2 separate regions of the Homo sapiens genome follow, and region 1 is linked to region 2. Evidence: fine-mapped expression QTL. A gene starts in region 2. The other region holds a variant in brackets. All regions are shown on one strand. Distances are from middle to middle. Region 1 has its middle 15 kb from the start of STX4. Region 2 holds the start of ZNF646 (zinc finger protein 646).

The links. PIP is the estimated chance that this variant, and not a neighbour inherited with it, causes the effect.
Region 1: its variant is the best candidate, but not a certain one, in a credible set for the expression of ZNF646 in whole blood (TOPMed, PIP 0.55).

What each region holds. Positions count from the first base shown.
Region 1 is chr16:31,046,459-31,050,841 of GRCh38, forward strand. No RefSeq gene overlaps it. Among named protein-coding and RNA genes, the nearest start is that of STX4, 15 kb to the left of the region's middle. The variant C/T (reference allele first, on the strand shown) is at 1,860.
Region 2 is chr16:31,072,176-31,076,558 of GRCh38, forward strand. It overlaps ZNF646 (zinc finger protein 646), which reads left to right and starts at 2,247. Exons shown (of 3, transcript NM_014699.4): 1 at 2,247-2,456; 2 at 4,071-4,383. The coding sequence starts at 4,150. ZNF668 (zinc finger protein 668) reads right to left here and starts at 2,065. Exons shown (of 3, transcript NM_024706.5): 1 at 1,484-2,065. RefSeq lists enhancers at 941-1,741, 1,033-1,327, 1,947-2,480, 1,986-2,125, 2,481-3,013 and a silencer at 1,216-1,675.

The DNA of each region.
Region 1 (4,383 bases), 26 kb before region 2:
TTACAGGTGTGAGCCACTGCGACCGGCTGAGCTACAAGTTTTGATTAAAAGTCATCTTTGTGGCAAGGGCCATATCAAGTATATGGCTATTATGCCCTTTGTAAAAATCTCCAAACTGATCAAAGTGGTTCCTAATAAATCCTCTCAGCTAGTCAAGATGATTCAAAGGAAAGAGGTTAAGAGTGTAACTCACCTTGGCTGGGCGTGGTGGCTCACGCCTGTAATTCCAGCACTTTGGGAGGCTGAGGTGGGCGGATCACCTGAGGTCAGGAGTTTGAGACTAGCCTAACCAACATGGAGAAACCCCGTCTCTACTAAAAATACAAAATTAGCCAGGCATGGTGGTGCATGCCTGTAATCCCAACTACTTGGGAGGCTGAGGCAGGAGAATTGCTTGAACCTGGGAGGCGGAGGTTGCAGTGAGCCAAGATCACCCATGGCACTCCAGCCTGGGCAACAAGAGTGAAACTCCATCTCAAAAAAAAAAAAAAATGTAGCTTACCTGAGGGAGTCAGTAGGCTCAACTACAGTTAAGTCTAACGTCATGGTTATGTCTGAAAAGAATTATGGGTATGCTGTTGACCCATGGATCTGAATGGAGTAAAATACGTAAGTTCAGTTTTGGAGGGAATTGCCCTGCTTCCCCTGCCTAACACCCCCTCACCCTGACAAAAAGCCACCAGGTTAAATCTTGACCATGAGTGTTCAATACTTAGTATGATTTTTAGGTCCCCAAGTTTCTTTCTTTTTTTTTATTTCGGAGACCGGGTCTCACTCTGTCACCCAGCCTGGAGTGCAGTGATGCAACCACAGCTCTCTATAACCTCGAACTTCTGGGCTCACACGATCCTCCTGCCTCAGCCTCCCAAGTAGCTGGGACTACAGGCCCATGCCACCCCAGCAGGCTAATTTTTGTTTTTCAAATTTTTTTGAAACAAAATCTCACTCTGCCACCCAGGCTGAAGTGCAGTGGCACGATCTTGGCTCACTGCAACCTCCGCTTCCTGGGCTTGAGTGATCCACTTACCTCAGCCTCCCAAGTAGCTGGGACTACAGGTGTGCGCTACCATGCCCGGCTAATTTTTGTATTTTTTTGGTAGAGACAGGGTCTTGCTATATTGCCCAGGCTGGTCTCGAACTCCTGAACTCAAGCGATTCACCTGTCTTGGCCTCCCAAAGTGCTGGCATTATAGGCGTGCAGTGTACCACCATGCCCAGCCTATTTTTGTTTTGTTTTGCTTTGTTTTGTTTTGAGATGAAGTCTTGCTCTGTCACTCCAGCTGGAGTGCAGTGGCACAATCAAGCCTCACTGCAGCCTCTACCTCTAGGGCTCCAGTGATCCCCCCACCTCAGCCTTCTGAGTAGCTGGGACTACAGGCATGCGCCACCACACCTGGCTAATTTTTCTATTTTTTTCTGGAGAGGATTTCAGCCTGTTGCCCAAGCTGGTCTTGAACTTCTGGTCTTAAGGAGTTCTCCCTCGTTGGCTTCCCAAAGTGATGGGATTACAGGTGTGAGCCACCATGCCCAGCCTAATTTTTGTATTTCAGGTTTTTTTTTGTTTTGTTTTGTTTTGTTTTTAGTAGAGATGGGGGTCTCTGTATGTTGCCCAGGCTGGCCTCAAGCAATCCTTGCCTCAAGTGATCCTCCTGCCTTAGCCTCTCAAAATACTGTGATTGCAGATGTGAACCACCATGCCCGGCCTGGGTCTCCAAATTTCTTTTTTTTTTTTAGAGACGGAGTCTCGTTCTGTCACCCAGGCTGGAGTGCAGTGGTGTGATCTCGGCTCACTGCAAGCTCTGCCTCCCAGGTTCACGCCGTTCTCCCGCCTCAGCCTCCCGAGTAGCTGGGACTACAGG[C/T]GCCCGCCACCATGCCCGGCTAATTTTTTTTTGTATTTTTAGTAGAGACAGGGTTTCACTGTGTTCGCCAGGATGGTTTCGATCTCCTGACCTCGTGATCTGCCCGCCTCGGCCTCCCAAAGTGTTGGGGTTATAGGCGTGAGCCACCGCACCTGGCCATGGGTCTCCAAATTTCTATGGGCATGAAGGAGACTGAGAAAGCTACTCTACTTCAGAAAGACATAACCACCAGTGTCCTCTCAATTGTGGCCAAGGAGAATAAGTGGAAAAGGGTGGTTTACTCTAAGGGCAGAGCCAAGAACATGGTGAAGAATGAACTAGGGAACTCTTCCCACTCCCAGGGAAAAGTGGGGGTTCTTCTCAACATCTGCCCAGCAGCACTTTAGACTTAGTGGGGCCCAGAGCCTGCTGTGTGTCTCCTGTCCTTCCTTCCTTTTTTTTTTTTTTTTTTTTTTTTGAGACAGAGTTTCACTTTTGTCACCCATGTTGTAGTGCAATGGCACTATCTCGGCTCACTGCAACCTCTGCCTCCTGGGTTCAAGCGATTCTCTTGCCTCAGCCTCCCGAGTAGCTGGGACTACAGGTGCATGCCACCACGCCTGGCTAATTTTTGGTTTTGGGGTTTTTTGTTTTTGTTTTTGAGACGGAGTCTTGCACTGTCGCCCAGGCTGGAGTGGAATGGCACGATCTCGGCTCACTGCAACCTCTGCCTCCTGGGTTCAAGCGATTCTCCTGTCTCAGCCTCCTGAGTAGCTGGGACTACAGGGGCCCGCCACCACGCCCGGCTAACTTTTTGTATTTTTAGTAGAGACCGGGTTTCACTATGTTGGCCTGGCTGGTCTTGAACTCCTGACCTTGTGATCTGCCCCCCTCGGCCTCCCAAAGTGCTGGAATTACAGACGTGAGCCACTGCGCCTGGCTAATTTTTGTATTTTTAGTAGAGACAGGTTTTCACCGTGTTGGCCAGGGTGGTCTCAAACTCCTGACCTCAGGTGATCCACCGGCCTCGGCCTCCCAAAGTGCTGGGATTACAGGCATGAGCCACCGCACCGGGCCCTGTCCTTCCTTCTGAACGGGAGTGTGCTCTGCTGTTCTCCTGTCCTTGTTCTGCTTTATATGTTGGATGTGTTCGTGTGTGTGTGTGTGTAGAAATGGGGCACAGGTAACTTGTCTCTGTCTCTCTCTTATTTTGTAGCTCATAGGTCTCTGAATCAAGAGAAGCCACATCTGGACCTGATATAGAAGAGACTATTAGAGATCCTGGGCTTGAGGCTGATTCCATGTCAGATGGGTCACTTAGGTGGTCTCCCTTGGGAAGGGGATGCATTTATTTTGCATATGGAAGAAAATGCAAAGGCAGTATTTGTAAGGAAGAGGGCAGACGGGGGAAGATTTTATAATTGTTCAAAAACATTCACTGGGATGTGTGTGGTGGCTCACGCCTATAATCCCAGTGCTTTGGGAGGGTGAAGCAGGAGGATCACTTGAGGCCAGGAGTTTGAGACCAGCATGGGCAACATAGTGAGACCCTATCTCTACAAAAAATAAAACAATAAAAAAAAATTAGCTGGGCGTGGTGGTGCTTGCCTGTAGTCCTAGCTACTTAGGAGGCTGAGGTGGGAGGATCACTTAAGCTCAGGAGGTAGAGGCTGCAGTGAGTTATGATTGCACCATGCACCTATGCACTCCAGCCTGGGCAACACAACAAAACACTGACTCTAAAAAAACAACCAACAAAAAAAAATCACATGTATTCACTGGCCCTCTCTTTGGGGACCTGCTACATAGAATGGTTTTTTGTCCCCAGTTCACTGACATCAGGTATGGCTATGTGGCTTGCTTTAGACCATGGACTTTGAGTGGAAATGACATGTGCCACTTCCACGAGGAAGCTTTAAAAGCCGTCATGGGGTCTGCCACCTTTCCTCTCTTCGGTGTCTGGAGACGGAAAGTTCCAGCTTGAGACTTTTCCTTCAGACAGGGCTCTAGAATGAAGATAGCATAGAACAGAGTGGTCCCATGGAGGACATGGATATGAGTGAGAAATCAACATGGTGTTGTGAGCCCCTAAGATTTGGGGGCTGCTATTACTGCAGCGTAACTGGATCCCAGCTGATAGATGCAGCCTCCCTGTGGGATACCCTGCTCAGGTATCCTTTCCCATCACCATGACAACTGACACACCATAATGAGCTATGCTGATGTTAGGAAGTCTCCGCCTTTGCTCCTCTTCAGAGCTGTTCACCCTCAGGTCCTAACCAGTGAGCCTATTTCTTTTTTTCTTTCTTTTTTTTTTTTTTTTTGAGATGGAGTCTTGCTCTGTCACCAGGCTGGAGTGCAGTGGTGCGATCTCGGATCAATGCAACCTCTGCCTTCTGGATTTAAGCAAATATTGTGCTTCAGCCTCCTGAGTAGGTCTGGAACTCCTGACCTCAGGCCATCCGCCAGCTTTGGCCTTCTAAAGTGCTGGGATTACAGGCATGAACCACCGTGCCCAGCCAAGCCGAGTCTTCTTGATTCTTGC
Region 2 (4,383 bases):
ATTCTTCATCACCAGCACCAGAGTCCAGGCTGGCAAAGGGCTAGGAAACCGATCATCTGCCTCCTCTACACCCAGAACCCTGTGTGGTGACCCAAAACAAATGGAAAGAACCAACCTCAGATGAAATTTGAACCCAGGTCTGTAGCCTCTGCCTCCTCCACAGTAGGAGTTTGTGAGAATGTCCACCAATAACTGTTTATTAACTAAATTCCTCCACCTTTCCAACTCCACAAGGCTCAACTATTGCCCCAATATCCCACAGTGGGCTCCCTGTCGTGGCGATGAAGCCTTGCTTTGCCTCACTACTGGCTTAGGAAGGGGATGAAGTTCTGCTGTCTCACTAGGCAAGCAAAGATTCAATTTCCAAAAATCCTAGGCTAGGACCCTGGGGCAGGGATGAGGAGAAAAAGGAGGCACCTCAATCTTCCCATCTCTAAACAAGCAGTCACCACACAGGCCTCACGGCCAGGAGTGACGTAGTGAGCGGATGAACCCTGCAGAAGTGAGCGCTAATCATATCCTAGGCCTCCTACCGGGCCAGTTCACAACCTGATCCCAACCTACTTTTCCAGCCTCAGCTCCAGCGACAGAGTCCTCCTCCCGGCAGCGACCGAACCTCCAGCCACAATTCTCAATCCTCCACCTCTAGATGCAGTTTCCTGGGCTCGGGGAGCCCTTGCCTGCCTTCTCCAACGGGAAAGCCCCTTTACATCCTTCAAGAACCCCCTTCCCTAGTGCCCTCAGGAATACTTTATGGCAGTAGAGAGGTAAGGGCCCCACGCCGCTCTGGACCTCAGTTTCCTCATCAGTAAAATGGGGTCCCTTAAGTTTGTGGGAGTTTGAAGGGCGGTGGGGCCTACGAAGCGCGCCGAGGAGCCGAGAGTTGCAGAAACCCGGAGCTCCTCGCTCCTCGCAACCGTCTGTACGCGGCGCCCCCGCCAGCCAGGCAGCCCCTGGAGGGCAGGACCCCGGTTATAAGCCTCAGAAAACGTGGCTTCGGAGGACGTGGCAAGGAGGACTGAACGAAGGATGAGGAGATGAACAAATGAATGGACGGAAGGCCGAATGAGGGACAAAGGCTTGCAAGATGGCGTTCTCTAGGACCGCGGGAGTGGTGGCCGGGCCTCAGCAGGGGAGGGGGCCGCCGGCGCCTGGGATCTTGCAGCGCGGGCCACGCGACCGGGACAAAAACCCAAAACATGGCGGGCTCTAGGACCCCCGGGACCACACCGCGCCGGGCCAGCAGCCGCGCGGGCCGAGCCTGGGTGTCCGCAGCCCAGAACCGCGGAGACAGCCGGCGGGTTCTAGGACCTGCTGGGCCCGCAATGCGCCCGGGGCCGCTCACAGCCCGCCCCGCCCGCGCTGCTCGCGCTGGGCCAACCCGGCCCGCCCTCGGCGCCCGCAGGGAAACTGAGGCCAGCTCGGATCGTGGCCGCGTGGGAGCTGCCCGGGGCCCTCGCGGCTTCCCGCCGACGTTTCCTACCTGATGAGACTTGTGCTGACTCCGTGGCGTCGGCGTCGGCTCCTCGCACCGACGGAGCCCGGACCCTGCCAAACAGGGGCCGGCGCTAGGACCCAGCGGGGGGCGGGGAGGTGGGACCGGTGGCGCGGCGAGCGGAAGTGAGGGATCTTCCTCAGCTAGGAAGGAAGGGAAAGTTCCCGGGGAACCTCCAGCCTATGGCGGCAGAGAAGCATCTTGCAAGAGGTCTCTGTGTGTGCTGAGGCAAGGGGACGCCAGGCAGGCTGACGGTATACGCCCGCCTTGTGTTAGTCTGGGGCCAGGTCACCGGCAATGTCTTCAAGAACCAGAAGGTGGGAGGACAAAAAGGCCATGCTCAAGCTCTGCAAAACCTAAGTCCAATTATATTCCACAACATTTCCTTTAATAGCAAGGAGTGGGTTTCACGAAGTTTTCTCCATCTGCCTTGGGAAAAGTCCTCCAGAGAGCCCCACGAAAAGTGTCACCAAAGTACTGTGGCCAGGGCTGTAGAATCTTTTTCTCCCTTTCTGCGCCTATTCAATATGCACCGGAACGATTCTAGCTGCTCTTGCCGGAAGTGTGGCTAGCTTAGCGTGCAAAGACGCCGCGTTGTGACCTACGTGGGCGGAGTCAGCCGTGCAGACCTAGAACTTAGCGCCGGAAGTGTGTCTGCGTAAAACTGCGGCTCGGAGGCGGGACAGGCAGTGCTCCCGAAGCGGAAGTTTCGCGGGGAAGCTTTTGCACCTAAGGACACTTCCTGTTTCCTAGTAACAATAGGAAGTGTCCGTAGAGCTGGGAGTAGACTCCTGGCTCATGCCAGCTGCGCCCTCTTTTCTCTACCTCCTTCCTCTTCCCCCCTTCTCCTTTCCCTCTTTCCCTTCCCTCCCACCTCCCGGGAACCCTGGCTGAGTGTGCGTGTGTGGGAGCGCGAGAGCCCCCCGACAGCCACCCCTTGGGGCGCGCGGCTGCAGTTAGGGTAAGGGTCCCAGTGCGCAGGCGCGCTCTTGTTCGCGGTCCCCAACTGACGCGCCCGCGGCGGGAAGGAGAGGGGGCCGCCGGTGCGAGGTAGGCGTCCTGAGAGGAAATTGGCAGACGAGATGAGTGAGGTCAGAGGACTTCATTGGTGGTTGACTAGGGGAGGGGACTTTTGATCAAAGGGGCTTTGTGAGGTGAGAATTCCGGGGGCAGGTTCAGTGAAGGGGTTTACGGTCGGAGACAGTTGTACTGGGGTCCCATGGGAAGAAGAGTCAGAGTTGGAGAAGGACAAGACGATGTAGGGGGCATGAGAGAGCAAGGGCTTTGGGATGAAGACCGCCTCAGTCAGGGGGTTTGCTGTTACGTGAACTAGAATAACAGGCATTGCCGTGTGTTCTGAGGATTGAGTAACACAATGAATATAGTTAGCACAGTGCCTGGCACATGGTAATATAATACTCTTCATGAGTTGCTGTCATCATCAGTATTAAGAGAGGAGGCAGAAGAAAAAAATGAGAAAGACTGGTGAGGGTAAGATCAGGAGGCATGGGAGAGAAAAGGTAGGCAATGAAGTGACATTACAACCTGGTATTGATGTTATTCCCAAGATGGAAGATAGTTTGAGTTCAAGGGAAGTAGATAAAAGAAGTCGCTAAGAGAGTCTTTTGGGGTTTTTTGTTTTTTTGAGATGGAGTCTCGCTCTGTCACCCAGGCTGGAGTGCTGTGGTGGGATCTCAGCTCACTGCAACCTCCACCTCCCAGGTTCAAGCAGTTCTTCAGCCTCAGCCTCCTGAGTAGCTAGAATTACAGGTGCCCACCACCACGCCCGGCTAATTTTTGTATTTTTAGTAGAGACAGGGTTTCACCATGTTGTCCAGGCTGGTCTTGAACTCCTGAACTCAGGTGATCCACCAGCCTCGGCCTCCCAAAGTGCTGGGATTACAGGCGTGAGCCACCACACCTGGCCCAGTTAAGAGAGTCTTAACTCTCTTAACTCTCTTGTCACAAGGAAAAGAGACCTTGTGACACTGAAATGACTCGGGGTGGTGGGGGAACAAGCCAGCCCTTTCCCTGAAGGAGGCCTCTAACCTCTCCTCTCAGGTCCTCAGCTATTAACTGGAGGAAACAGCTGCTTTTTCAGTGCTTCTCAGCTACTCTGTTTAGCTGAGAGATGAAGTAGGAAGATTTGGACTTCTCTTATTGAAAGGCCTAGAGAAGGTTTTGGTGTCCTTTTAAGATGTCACAGAAAATTTTTGTTTCAGGATTGTAGGGAGCAGATTCCTACTGTTCTTAAAGGACAGTAATGCCTTTTGAGTCTGGTCTGAAGAACATAACAGGTCTGTGATCAGAAGTAGGTTGCATCTCTCTCAACTTTAATTTCCTTAGCTATACCTGTAGGGATGACTTAAGCCTAGGGGAGCTCCTATATTTGGGAAGCTTGTGCACAGGGAAGCCTTAAATGATGGTGCCTGCAGATTGGATCTAGTAGAAATTAGGTCCTTGGGCATGGATGCTTGGGGAACCTCTCAGTGACCTCAGGTGAACTTGTTGCTCGTAGAGCCAAGAGGCGAAGTTAATTCAGGCCTTCCTTTTGACCACTGCCCCCTCTTCCTAGGCCTTGGCCCCTCCACCAGAGGAAGGTGCTGCCACGTGTCTGCTCCTTCTGAACCTCCAGGTTTCTGCTACGTTGCCCCATGGAGGACACACCCCCCTCACTCAGCTGCTCCGACTGTCAGCGCCACTTTCCCAGCCTCCCAGAGCTCTCTCGGCACCGAGAACTGCTCCATCCATCTCCCAACCAGGACAGTGAGGAGGCTGACAGCATCCCTCGGCCCTACCGTTGTCAGCAGTGTGGGCGGGGCTACCGTCACCCCGGGAGCCTGGTTAACCATCGTCGGACCCACGAGACTGGCCTTTTCCCCTGTACC